Linked DNA regions of Homo sapiens: all the other regions are reported to be linked to region 1. The links are microRNA targets in miRTarBase. Many come from high-throughput screens and were not tested one by one. Region 1 holds a microRNA gene; each other region holds the end of a gene's coding sequence.

The links. Region 1 holds the annotated microRNA hsa-miR-4699-5p (AGAAGAUUGCAGAGUAAGUUCC, at 1,116-1,137, shown strand). A microRNA usually pairs through its seed, bases 2 to 8, with sites in the 3' UTR of a target mRNA and lowers its output. Matches are read on the target gene's strand: a 7mer-m8 pairs with bases 2 to 8, a 7mer-A1 pairs with bases 2 to 7 and ends in A, and an 8mer does both.
Region 2: the mRNA of PRORP is a reported target of hsa-miR-4699-5p. Seed matches in the 3' UTR shown: 7mer-m8 at 1,226-1,232.
Region 3: miRTarBase lists SRPRB as a target of hsa-miR-4699-5p. Seed matches in the 3' UTR shown: 7mer-A1 at 1,681-1,687.
Region 4: the mRNA of ZNF326 is a reported target of hsa-miR-4699-5p. Seed matches in the 3' UTR shown: 8mer at 1,935-1,942.

The regions. Positions count from the first base shown.
Region 1 is chr12:81,157,282-81,160,379 of GRCh38, forward strand. MIR4699 (microRNA 4699) reads left to right here and starts at 1,107; the gene lies at 1,107-1,180. The region is part of intron 7 of ACSS3 (acyl-CoA synthetase short chain family member 3); the gene reads left to right.
Region 2 is chr14:35,273,026-35,276,123 of GRCh38, forward strand. It overlaps PRORP (protein only RNase P catalytic subunit), which reads left to right. Exons shown (of 8, transcript NM_014672.4): 8 at 410-3,098. The coding sequence ends at 541. PRORP-PSMA6 (PRORP-PSMA6 readthrough) reads left to right here. Exons shown (of 15, transcript NR_182666.1): 8 at 410-1,266. Among named protein-coding and RNA genes, the nearest start is that of PSMA6, 18 kb to the right of the region's middle.
Region 3 is chr3:133,819,126-133,822,223 of GRCh38, reverse strand. It overlaps SRPRB (SRP receptor subunit beta), which reads right to left. Exons shown (of 7, transcript NM_001379313.1): 7 at 732-2,671. The coding sequence ends at 2,458. Among named protein-coding and RNA genes, the nearest start is that of SRPRB, 15 kb to the right of the region's middle.
Region 4 is chr1:90,027,340-90,030,437 of GRCh38, reverse strand. It overlaps ZNF326 (zinc finger protein 326), which reads right to left. Exons shown (of 12, transcript NM_182976.4): 12 at 1-3,084. The coding sequence ends at 2,737. Among named protein-coding and RNA genes, the nearest start is that of ZNF326, 34 kb to the right of the region's middle.

The DNA.
Region 1 (3,098 bases):
AGTTGTTTAATAAATTCAACATTCATTCATAATGAAGAGCTATCAGAAAACTAGTAATTGAAAGGAACTTCCTCAACCTGACAAAAGATCACCTATGAAAAAACCTGCTGCTAATATCATACCTAATCATAAAAGCCTGATTGTTTCTCCTCTGTTGTTCAGGAACAAGGCAAGTATTTCCACTCTCACCCTCTATTCAACATATCTGTGGAAGTTCTAGCTCATTTAATAAAGAAGTATAGGGAAGCTGGGCGCGGTGGCTCACGCCTGTAATCCCAGCACTTTGGGAGGTCAAGGCGGGCAGATCATGAGGTCAGGAGTTCAAGGTCAGCCTGACCAATATGGTGAAACCCCATCTCTACTAAAAATACAAAAATTAGCCAGGCATGGTGGTGCGCACCTATAGTCCCAGCTACTCGGGAGGCTGAGGCAAGAGAATCGCTTGAACCCAGGAGGTGGAAGTTGCAGTGAGCCAAGATCGCAACACTGCACTCCAGCCTGGGCAACAGAGCAAGACTCCCTCTCAAAAAATAAATAAATAAATATAAACAGAAATATAGAGGAAGAAAAGGCATACACACCAGAAGGGTAGAAATAAAATTGTCTTTATTTGCAGATGGCATGATTATTTGCATAAATGATTACAGAATACACACACACACACACACACACACACACACACACACACAAATCCCATAACTAATAAGTGAGTTCAACCCAGTCTCAGGATACAAGATTAACATACAAATATTCATTGTGTCTCTATAAATCAGCAATGGCCACATATGGCCATAAAGGGCATCACGAAGGATCCTTGTAGAGATGAACTGGTTTGTATCTTGACTGTATCAATATTCTGATTGTGATAACATATTGTAGTTTTGCAGTTTTTACACCTGGGGAAAACTGGTTAAAGGGTATATCTCTGTATTACTTCTTACAACTGCATGTAAATCTGCTTATTTTCCTGATAATTACCACATTTTCAAACAAATTCATAAAACTACCTCATTAAAACAAACAACAACAAAAATCTCTAATCCCTTATCTCCTGACAGCTACAACATTCTCTCTTTAAGGCCTTGTCTACACTCAACAGCTTCAACAGCAATTGGAGAAGATTGCAGAGTAAGTTCCTGATTAAGAAATGGAATTTACTCTGCAATCTTCTCCAATTGCTGTCACCATCATTCCATAGCTACAGCTTTTCCTAACATCCCCAGTCATCTCTACTTGCCAAAGTCAATGGGCATTTTCAGTCTTCACTGTGCTTGACTCCTCAGCATTTGAAAGTGTTGGCCATTTGCTCGATCCTAATCATTCTCTTTCCTTCCAAGGTACAACGTGCTCCTGTCTAATGTACCACATGCTCCTGTTTCCCTGCAGTTATTCTTATGCTCATTCCTGTCCCAGGAACATTGCCTGAAATATATGCTACTTGTCTGTTAGATTTCAGCTGGTGTCACTTCCTCAGGGAAGCCCTCCTTGACCTCCCTGATTAGGTCAAATCCCTTTATCATGGTCTTTTAGCACATTGCATTTTCCCTTGGTGGTTTGTATAAAACTTGCAGATTCATATTAGTCTTTAGGCTCCTTTGATGTGTTCGTTTGCCCTTCTTTCCTCTAACTGTACTAAGGAAGGAGTCATCTGAGTTTGTGTCCACCGTCAATTCTCAGCTCCTTGCCTTAATGACACATATTCAGTATTTAATACATATTTGTTAAATAAATGCCTGAATGACAATATCAGAAGAAAACTTGATTTATACGTAAAGATTTTTTCTATCAATGAGTAAGAGTAATTTAAATTTTCTTTTTTTTACAACAGGACTGCATGAGCAACTTATATAAGTCAGGTTATATGTTTTATAGACAGAGATTTACTTTTATCAGTGGAATTGGACATATTTAAATACAGAACACCTGTATTTAAGTAGTTTATTTTCTGAGAGGGAAATTTATAGCACTAAATAGATAGATTAGAAAAGAGGAAAACACTCAAATCAAGAATATAAGCTCCTATCTCAAGAACCTAGGAAAAAAGGAACAAAATATGCCCAAAACCAGGAAAGAATAATAAAGTTACCAAATAATAAAGGAATAAGTCAGGATATATGTTTTATAGACAGAGATTTACTTTTATCAATGGAATTGGACATATTTAAATACAAAACACCTGGCCAGCTCAGTCAGTGCAGTATGAGATGTTTAAAGTATGCAATTCTTGAAGGAAAATTGGATTGACCAGTTAAAATATGGAAACCAATTCTGAATAATTTAGTCTTTACTTTTGAGAGGAAAAAATTGAATGGTACTTCTTTAGAAATCTACTTCATTAATAGAGCAGTGATTCCAATAGATCTAACCCTAACCGTGTATGAACAAGAACAGATATTTGGTAGGATGGTTTTGCCAAAGAGAAGGGATAAAACACAAGCAATCTTTTCACATAGGAATGCAATGTACAAACAAATTTAGCTAACAGCCTAGTGTGTATGCGCATTCACATGTGTGTGATGGCAAATGGTGATTATACAGAGATATGCTCCCTTGCCTCTCTCTTCTTTCTAGTATTTCTTCCCTTTACCAGACTGTCATCTGCAGAATCAAAATCCAACACATTTCTCTAAGGCAAATAAATCTTTCCGTGTCCTGCCTTTCTCCTTATCTTTGCTGTCTACCAATGTGCAAAAGTGTGTGTTGTACACATATTTCAATTTCATGATACAGTAAGCCCAGGCTTCCACAATGACAGTGGTGTGGTTAAGCAAGAAATGAGATTACTGTTCCTTGGCTAGAGTATTACGTAGGTCTAAAATGGAATGTTAGTAGTTACTGTTTCTCCTTAAATCCGGCTTTAGAGTAAGCCATAAACTGGTTGGTATAATTGGTCTTGATATAGCAGTTGTCATTTTTATGTAATAACAGTCTTCTTTTCCAGTCAAGGGATATAAGTTTGCTCTCATTTTACATTTGTTTGTATTTCACATATGGTATACATCACAGCAACAAGCCTTTTCAATAAATTCTTCAGTATGTTTACTAGATTAGCAAGGGCAGATGGCTATTTGTTAATAATTCAACAATTAACTTTGAAG
Region 2 (3,098 bases), not on the chromosome of region 1:
TTGTTGTTGTTGTTGTTTTGTTTTGTTTCGTTTTGTTTTCATATATTTTCAATCTGTGGTTGTTTGCCAGGGATACAGAACCTGCAGTTGTGGAAGGCTGACTGGATTTGAAATTTTTCACTCTCACACACAAAACTGATAGAGCCAACAAAAGAACGTCTGTATTACATAAATGTAATGCTTCTACAGAGAGTCTTTAGACTTAAAAATGAGACCCCTCAAAAAAAGGAACTCCTAATATTAGGGCTCATCTTCACAGAGTTTGCTGCTGTTTGAAAATCCATTATTAAGTGAGATAATCCATTATCAATACTCTTCTGGAGCAAACTTGAGAAGTGTCAGAAAGAGAAATGGCCAAGTAGCCCTTTAGTGTTGTTCTCAATGTTTTGTTCTCTTTTTAATTCAACAGCGTATTCTCAGCTATGACACAGTGGTGCAAACAACTGGAGACTCGTGGCACATACCATATGATGAAGACTTGGTAGAAAGATGTTCCTGTGAAGTACCAACCAAATGGCTTTGCCTCCACCAAAAGACATAGAGATTCTTACCTCTATGCTAAGTTTGTGTTTGGGTACCCTCTAGGTTGGCATCAGAGGCTCTTGAGCTGGTGTTTGTTTAGGGCATTGCCTCTGTCCTGAAGATAAAAGGATTCTATTAACAGCATTGACATTGATTTTTTAATGAAATGAGATATATCTTTTCATAACCAGCTGCGTTTTTTTCCCCTAACATTTGTTTTTGGAGGCTTATCAAGAGTTGGAGAACTTAGTGTAGAGCAAAACCTGCATTTCTCCTACTGGGCCAGCTATTCCACTTAGCTTGGGTGACTAATAGTGCTTTTGGTATCCATTTTTTGCTACTTCTGACCTTGCCTTCCAGGCCTACCAATAGCAGAATCAATCCATCTGTCCCTGAGATACTCATGTTGTTTCAAATGCCTCCTCCCATTTCTGGCATAGTCTCATTCTCTGTATGTTATGCCCTATCCACATGGAATCATTTATCGTCCTCTGTAATAAACTGGCCAAGATACTAAAGGCTTACTATTCATAGCAGTTTTTAATTACTTATCATCCAATTATTTGGATTGGAGAAGAGGGGGCATTCACTCCTCTTTTTCTTATTTTTTTTGGAAATAGAGTCTCAACTTACTCTGTCGCCAGGGCTGGAGTGCAGTGACGTGATCACAGTTCACTGCAGCCTCAAACTCCCAGGCTCAAGCAATCTTCCTACCTCAGCCCTCCTGAGTAATTGGGACTACAGGCATGTATCACCAGGCTTGGCTAATTTTTTTTTTTTTTTTTGTAGAGATGGCTGTCTCACTCTGTTGACAAGACTAGTCTCCAACCCCTGGCCTCAGTCGATCCCCAGCAATTTGGGAGATTGAAGCGAGAGAATCACTTGAGTCTAGGAGTTCAAGACCAGCCTAGGCAACATAGTAAGATCTCATTTCTACAAAAAATTTAAAAATTAGCCAGGCATGGTAGTTTGCACACATAGTCCCAGCTACTTTGGGGGCTGAGGTAGGAGGATTGCTTGAGCCTCAGAGGTCAAGGCTGCAATGAGCCAACGTTGCACCACTGCACTCTAGCCTGGGTGACAGAGCGAGACCTTGTCTCAAAACAAAACAAAGTGCTGGAATTGCAGACTTGAGCCACAGTGCCCAGCCTCACTTCTCTAGACTATGATGGTTTTTTCTTCATTCTATAATCTCTTTTCCAAATTGGTTCAACATTTTGTGAACACTATTAATTTCATCATTCAGTATATGTGGGCTTTCTAAAATATGCCAATTTTTTTCCACTTAATCAAGTTTGACTTAATTTAACAAAGTGATTATATTTTAATAGTTACATTTCTGTTTTTTCCACTCACTAGCCAGCTTACAGTTTATTAGCCCTTGATTTCAGCTGAAAATATTCATGTCTGCACCCCTTCATGATAGTTCTTTCTTTACGTATACATACTGTATTCAATATGCAAGAACAGGCAAAAACTACTCTATTGTGATAAAAATCAGAATAGTAATTGCCTGAGGAAAGGGATATGAGAGAACTTGAGAGAACTTTCTCGGGGTGATGGAAAGTTTCTTATATTGATTTGGGTAATAGTAACATAGCTATATGTATATATTAGTTAAAATTCCTCACACTAAACATTTTAAATTGATATATTTACATTTATGACAATATACCTCAAAGTAAGTTAGGGTAAGAAAAGATAATTACTTACATGAAATAAACAATGACCTCTTTTATATCAAACCATATACATGTGTATAATTAGGGTATGTATTATGCACAGAGAAACAATTTAGGAAAATCCAAGGAGGGGACGTTTTATCTTCTTACCTATTTACTGAATGCAACATTACTGCACACCAAGACAAAAGAGCTCTCCAGGAAAACATTGGATATATTGAGAGCATTAAAAGATACTGCAAAAGCTCTAATAAATTCAGTCTGCTTATTTTCCAAATTTCATAAACTACATACTTAGGAAACTGTGCTTTCAGTGAGCTAAACTTCTTTTTTTAAGTAACTATCATAGTTTTAAGAAAAACATTTTAAGAAGACAAAAAGTATTTATTAAGCCCATCTAAAAGGCTAATGCAAATTCCCAAAAAAGGAGCACATAGAGATAGAGGAGGAGGCCGAAGTGGTGGCTCATACCTGTTAATTCCAGCACTTTGGGAGGCCAAGACAGGAGGATCACTTTAGGCCCAGAGTTGGAGACCAACCTGGGCAACATAGCAAGACCCTGTCTCTTAAAAAAAAAAAAAAAAGACGGGAGAAGCTACAAGAAGAAAACTAGAACTTTAGAGCAGGAGTAACCTTAGAGCATGTAAAGTCCATTTTGGAGATGAGGAACAGACCCAGGAAGATGACCTGGCTTCCCTGAATCCCACGGCTAGTTAGTGCAGACATTTCAGCCATAACCCAGCTCTTCTAATTCCCAAATACTCTTTCTTCTACTGGCACATAGAGATGGGGGAGGAGTCAGGGCATGGTGGCCCACACCTACAGTTCCAGCACTTTGGGAGGCCAAATGGGAGAATTGCTTGAAGCCAGGAGTTGGAGACCAGCCTAGGCAAC
Region 3 (3,098 bases), not on the chromosome of region 1:
CAAGGTGTTTCAAGCTCAAAAGTCTCATCTATGTCATACAGTCGTGCCTAGTTGGCCCGTCTCCAAGACCTGACATCCATCCTTCTACTCTGGCCACACCTGCCCATCTCATGAAATGGGCCTACTTTAGTCAAATGCCCTCAGGGCCACAAAAGGGCACCACCTGAGTGGAGAGAGCACATTTGACCTCCCATCAAAACCCTTCCCAGTTCCCAAAGACTAGTCACCATGACCTCATCCTGGCCCAAAGCCACAAGAACGGAATGCCTGCTACTAGTACAGGAGTAAGAAGCAAGGTCAGAGTTCCCATGCCTGCTGACTTGACCCTGTCAGAAAAACTCAGCAGGGTGTGTGCCCCAAGAGACTTTAAAAACAAAGTAAAGGCACACGTGACACTCCAGGCCAGATCATCTCTAGGGGTGCCATGCGACTGACAAAAGACTTATTAAGCATGCAGATTCCTGAGGCAATACCAGACTTGCTATTGAATCAAATTGTCTGAGAGTAGGGTCCTCAAATCAGTTTAACAAGCATCGCAGGTAATTCTGATGCCCACTAACATTTGAGACCAGTGTTCCAGATAGAATTATCCTTTTTTGGAAGACCTTCTTTAGGCCTTGAATCAAACTCAAACTTGCAGCCCTTCTTCAGTCACTTTTTCTGGTGTGCTGCTTCCTCCAATAAAGTAAGATATTAACCAGAAAAAAATAAAAGAGGCTGAGAGGGACACATGCCTCTAACAGAAGCATCAAGCCACTGACTTTTATTCCCATGAGCTCCTACTATGATGACATAACATGTCACATTTATTGCTCTTACCTACTTCCTAAGTTACTGCTTGCCTAATAAGGAAAAGGGCAAGAAATAAGAGTCCAAAAGACACTCAGAACACCAGCAGCAGCTTTCAAGTAAGGACTCAGGGTCAGGGTCTCACAACTCCTCCATTTCATGTTTCATTTACATTGTCTTCGTGCTCCAGCAGCAAGGCTGACATGTGCTTTGGGGTAGGAGCCTGGAGTATTTCTGCCAGATGGTCTGAGGTGACGTATACTCCTAGAGCCCAAGTGACCACCAGAAGGGACATGTGAGACAGCAGGCAGAGGCCATACATGGAGGATCACACTCCCTCAGACGTCATCAGCCCCATGCTTTATCCTTTGACTCCCCCTGATCCTCAAGGCCAGGTGGGGTGCCCCTGCTGCATGCTCCAGAGAACTGTGGGCCTCTCCTACCATGGCTCTCAATGCACTGTTCCATAACTGGCTTCTCCCCTGGACAGAGCCACCCTGGTCTCCTTGTAAGCTTTAGTTGGGCTTGTCCCTGAGTGTGTGGGGTAGGAATAGGAGTGTGTTCTTGTGTATGTTGCAATCTTTAGGCTCAGGAGACAAGGAGTTAGACCTGAGTCCTGACATGTGCACTCATTTGTACTCACCATTACATTCTATTTAATTGCTTTGAGCCAGACAGGCTGTTTTCTTTACCATGAAATATACTAATCATTCAAAAAAGCCTTGTGTTTAAGAAGACAGCAAAAAACATCACTTCAAAAAGGCAACTTTTTTTTTTTCTTGGCATCAATGAATATGCACTTCAGAAATCTACAGAGAACTTTTTTCACTTTGTATTTGTTCCACAGCATTCTAGCCAGGAGTACAAAATAGGAGCTCTTCAAGCAGCACATGAAGATGGCCCAGGAGCCTTCAGCCATCCAGAGCAGCAGAGCAGCACCTAAATCTCCACACACTTCCCAGTATAACCACTAAGAACACACTAGACCCTTGGCATTAGGGGATTTATCATTTCCAGTTCTATTATCTGGGAATGACTCCAAGGGTTTGTGACAAGCTTTTGAAACGTAAGTGCTAAGACGAGTGTGGACAAGTCACTGAGCTAATGAAGAATAGACCCACTGTCTGCTTGGCTCTGCTATTTTGTACCTGTCTTCACATGTGGGGAAACTTCATAACTGTGCCCACAAATCAGAGAAATTCGCAAAGGACTAGACAATGTATTGCCTGTGAACTTCAGAGGCAACTGGAAATAGTGCAACTGGAAATCAACTAGCTTCATACATAGGCGGATTTGTTTCCAGGGACCAAAAGCACAGAAGATAAGAAAACTTTTCAGGTGATGGCCATATTCTCATCATATCCTCTCTGTGTGGAGTCTGCCTGTTGTCACAAAAACCTTGACCCTACATCAAGTTACACCTTAACAAAGGGAAGATACAGGCATCAGATAAAAGGTACTTGTTTGAAAGGCAGCCATAAGGGAGAACTGAACTTAAAAAAAAAAAAAAAAAAAATTCCAAGCTGGTTTCAACAGTACTTTGTTTCCAGAACAAAGAAATGTTTCTAACCACATCTTGTACCCCTTCCTCATCAACTCCAGACTACCACAGACCTTTTTCCAAAACTGTGTGTCACACATCCAGGTCTTGTGCTTTAGAGCTGCCTCTCAGGCAATTTTAGCCAGCCATTTCTCCAAGTCCTGGATGTCAGCAGAGCCCACGTCCCCTCTTCCACCCTTGGCACTGCACTCCAGGAACTCCACTTTGAGGGGCAACTGTGAGAATTCAAACTCTTTGCCTTTCTTCCCCAGCTGAGCAGGGGCAGTGCTGGAACTGTCCAGTGTGCTGGGGGCAGCAGAACGGGTAACTCGTAAGGTGTTGCTGTGGGGCAAAAGGAAAGAAGTCAGGAGGCAAAATTTTTATACAGCAATTAAATCATATTAGTTTCTAAACATTTCAGCACTCATTTAAAACTTAACTATAGAATTGCCAATTATGCTATTAAGATTGTTGAATAATCCTTTGCATTTATAAGTCCCTCTCTTGGACAGAGAGGTGAGGTAGGTGGGGCGGGCTGGGGGGGTCAGACCTCACAGGGCTAGAAGGCAGGTCAGCAGTAGACCAGGTCACACCAACTTTCTTTCAGCCCAAGGCCCCCTTCTAAGAGGATCTACTGAATGAAGCCGTCTAAAAATATATTTTTAAAATACATGCTTTAAGTGTTATAAAAACATAAGTTTCTGAAAGTTAAGTGTGGGTAGATAGGGTATGTATTTTTATCTTGAGTCTATTTGGATATGGAGTTTAG
Region 4 (3,098 bases), not on the chromosome of region 1:
GCTGGTAAGAATGGTATATGATATAAAGTTGTAAAGCTAGGCCAGTCTGATCAACATGATAAGGAGTTCTAACTGTATAGGTACAAAAAAAAAAAAAGCATGAGATTAACATCATCTGAATTACATTTTTAAAAGCTTATACTTGTGTAGAAAACTGAATCTATCATGGTAAGGGTGGAATCAAGATTAGTTAACAAGAAATTATCATGACTTGAACTGGGTTGGTTGCAGTGGAGGTAGAAGAGTCGGCAGATAAATTTTGGAAGTAGAACAGACAGACTTTTTGGTAGACTGTAGGTAGAAAGTGATAAAAAGCGAATAATACAGGATAGTCCCTAGGCATGGAGCTGAAACAACTGTGTAGGTTATAAATAAATTTCTTTGGTTATTTAGAACTATGTATCTCACTTTGTAATAGAGAAAACAAGTGATACTTGAAAACAGAAGTTGAAAGGCGTTTAAGATCTTATATACATCCTTATTACAAAAGCAATGCAAATATAAACACTAAGGATCACAAAAACTAACCTGACTATAAAGTAAACTGCCCGCCTACAAATTATCCAATAGGAAATACATGAATTTGAATTTCTGAATTAAGCACAGTAACAAAATACACTTTTATTTATCATTACCTTGCAAATTAGCTAGGCTGTATAAAGGCTCATGCGTCCCACAAAAAAGTACTATTTAGATGTTCTTTCCTATCTCTCATTCTAAAACATTTACCCAGTTGTTACATAGGATTCTTGTTACATAATGGTTTTCTTCCCAAAAGTTTCATATCTCAATCAGACTACCAGAGACATTGTTTTAAAAAAAATCACTCAGCTTAGTATCAGAAGAACCAAATACTAATAACCTAGAGGAATTTATTATTCTTTTACCTTAGCCCTTCCACAAATATTTTTAAAAATAAAGGAGAAATAAGAGGGTAACAAGTCCTATTATCCTTAAAATTTGAACTCCTAAGCAAAACGGCTTTCAAAAGCCTGCTAAGTAAATACAGACTCCTAGATAGTATCCAAATTTATCTAGTCTTCAACTACCCTTCTCTTATTTGGCACCAAATCCCTAAAATTAGATGCAAGTATCTATCAGATATTGCTAGCTTAAAGCTAGGCAAACCTAGTTCACCTCAAAAAAAAAAAACTGTATTGGTTCAGAAAGTCTAGTTTTAAAAGCCTTATTTTACACAAAAAGATAAATTATCTGTGGGATTCTACAAATGTCCATACATTCACCCACTTAATACCTTACAATTTGATATATCCATCCATTTATCCATTCGATGCCTCAAAACTTTTCTAATTTCACTGAAATACAGCCCCCTATGCCAGGCATGGTGGCTCACACCTGCAATCCCAGCACTGTGGGAGGCCAAGACAGACAGGTCACTTGAGCCCAGGAGTTCAAAACCAGCCTGGACAACATGGTAAAACCCTGTCTCTACAAAAACTACAAAAATTAGCTGGGCATGGTGGCTCACACTTAACAGTCCCAGCTACTTGGGAGGCTAAGTTGGAGGATCGCTTGAGCCCAGGAGGTTGAGGCTACACTGCACTCCAGCCTGGGTGACAGAGTGAAACCCTGTCCCAAAAAAGAAAAAAAAAAAAAACTACGGACCCTACTCTCAAAAGAGGCCACAGTAAAGATTGAAAAAAATAAGAGCACTACTTTTTAGTGACATAGACGGTTGTTTGAAAATAAATTATTTAAGAATAGATCCTCTATCAAGCTCATGTTCTCTTTTTAAATATGTAGGTATATAAGCCATAAAAAGGAATTTTTTAAAAAGGATAGAAATATTTGAAAGAGAAATAATTCTTTTAAAAGAAAAGTCTGCTTCTTGGTTCTTCAGCCAAAAACAGACATGACAAAAGAACTAACACAACTACAGAAAACTTTGTATCAAATGTATTTTCAGCAAGACTTGAAGATTTGACACAGGCACAGGGAAAAGGAACAAACTTAAAAAGAGTATAAATAAGGTCAGTTCAAACTCACTTCTATTTGAAATGTGTTTTAAAAACAATTTTAGTCTTATATTTTAAAAATATGATTGAGAATTTTTTTTTCTTTAATTCAAGTCTTCTCAATCATCTTAAAATACTTGTGAGCTGAACTGATACATTAAGGCAAATTTTTATTTTAAATACTCATTTCATTGATGAACTCTGTTTCATTTAAACTGCTAATCCAGGGAGAAAGTTTTCGTAAAAAACATTTTATTGCTACAAAGGGAAACATGGTCACAAAGAGCCTTTAAGCGTATCTTAACGCAAATTACTATTCAATGTCTAATGCAGTAAAAAAATACACAGAGCACAAAATACTTGCCCAGTTTATATCTTCCAGGGTAAGTATTCAAAAAATTGATGCACACTTGAATATTCACTCCCAAGAGCAGCATTTAAGATAAAATGATTAGAATAGATATACTAACAATACACATTTGTTATCCTTAACACCAATAAAGTAATAAAAATTAAGCTTAAAAATTATACAAACAATTTATCGGATCTAAGTCTGGTAGCTATAAAAACTAAACTAAAATAGTTTTGCCTTCATTTTATTAAACAAATGTTAAACATTTAGAAATTATATAAAACAAATTTTAATATGTGGAATGCATGCAACATGGGTGTTAATTCATATTTTAAGCTATTAAATTTCTTACCCTTTTTTACATTAGAACCGAAATGTAAAGCTCCTTTTAAATCTAATACCTTATATTTAATTTTCTTCAGGTTGCTCAACAGGGAAGTCAGCAGGTTCTTCCTTTGCTGTCTCTTCCTCTAATTCCTCTACTTCCTCTACTTCCCCCACTCCCTCTACTTCTCCCACTACCCCTACTTCCCCTCCTTCCCCTACTCCCTGTATATTTCCCTCGCCCTCTATTCCTCCTTCTCTCACTTCCTCTACTTCTTCCACTTCCTCTACTTCCCCCACTTCCTCTGCTTCTTCTTCCTCATCTTCATCCTCCTCTTCTTCAATAGGTTCATCAATCTTCTCTTCATCCTCCTCATCTCCTTCTATTTGCTGATCCTGAGAATGGTCTTGAATTTCAAAAGGATTCTCACCCTAAAAACATAAGA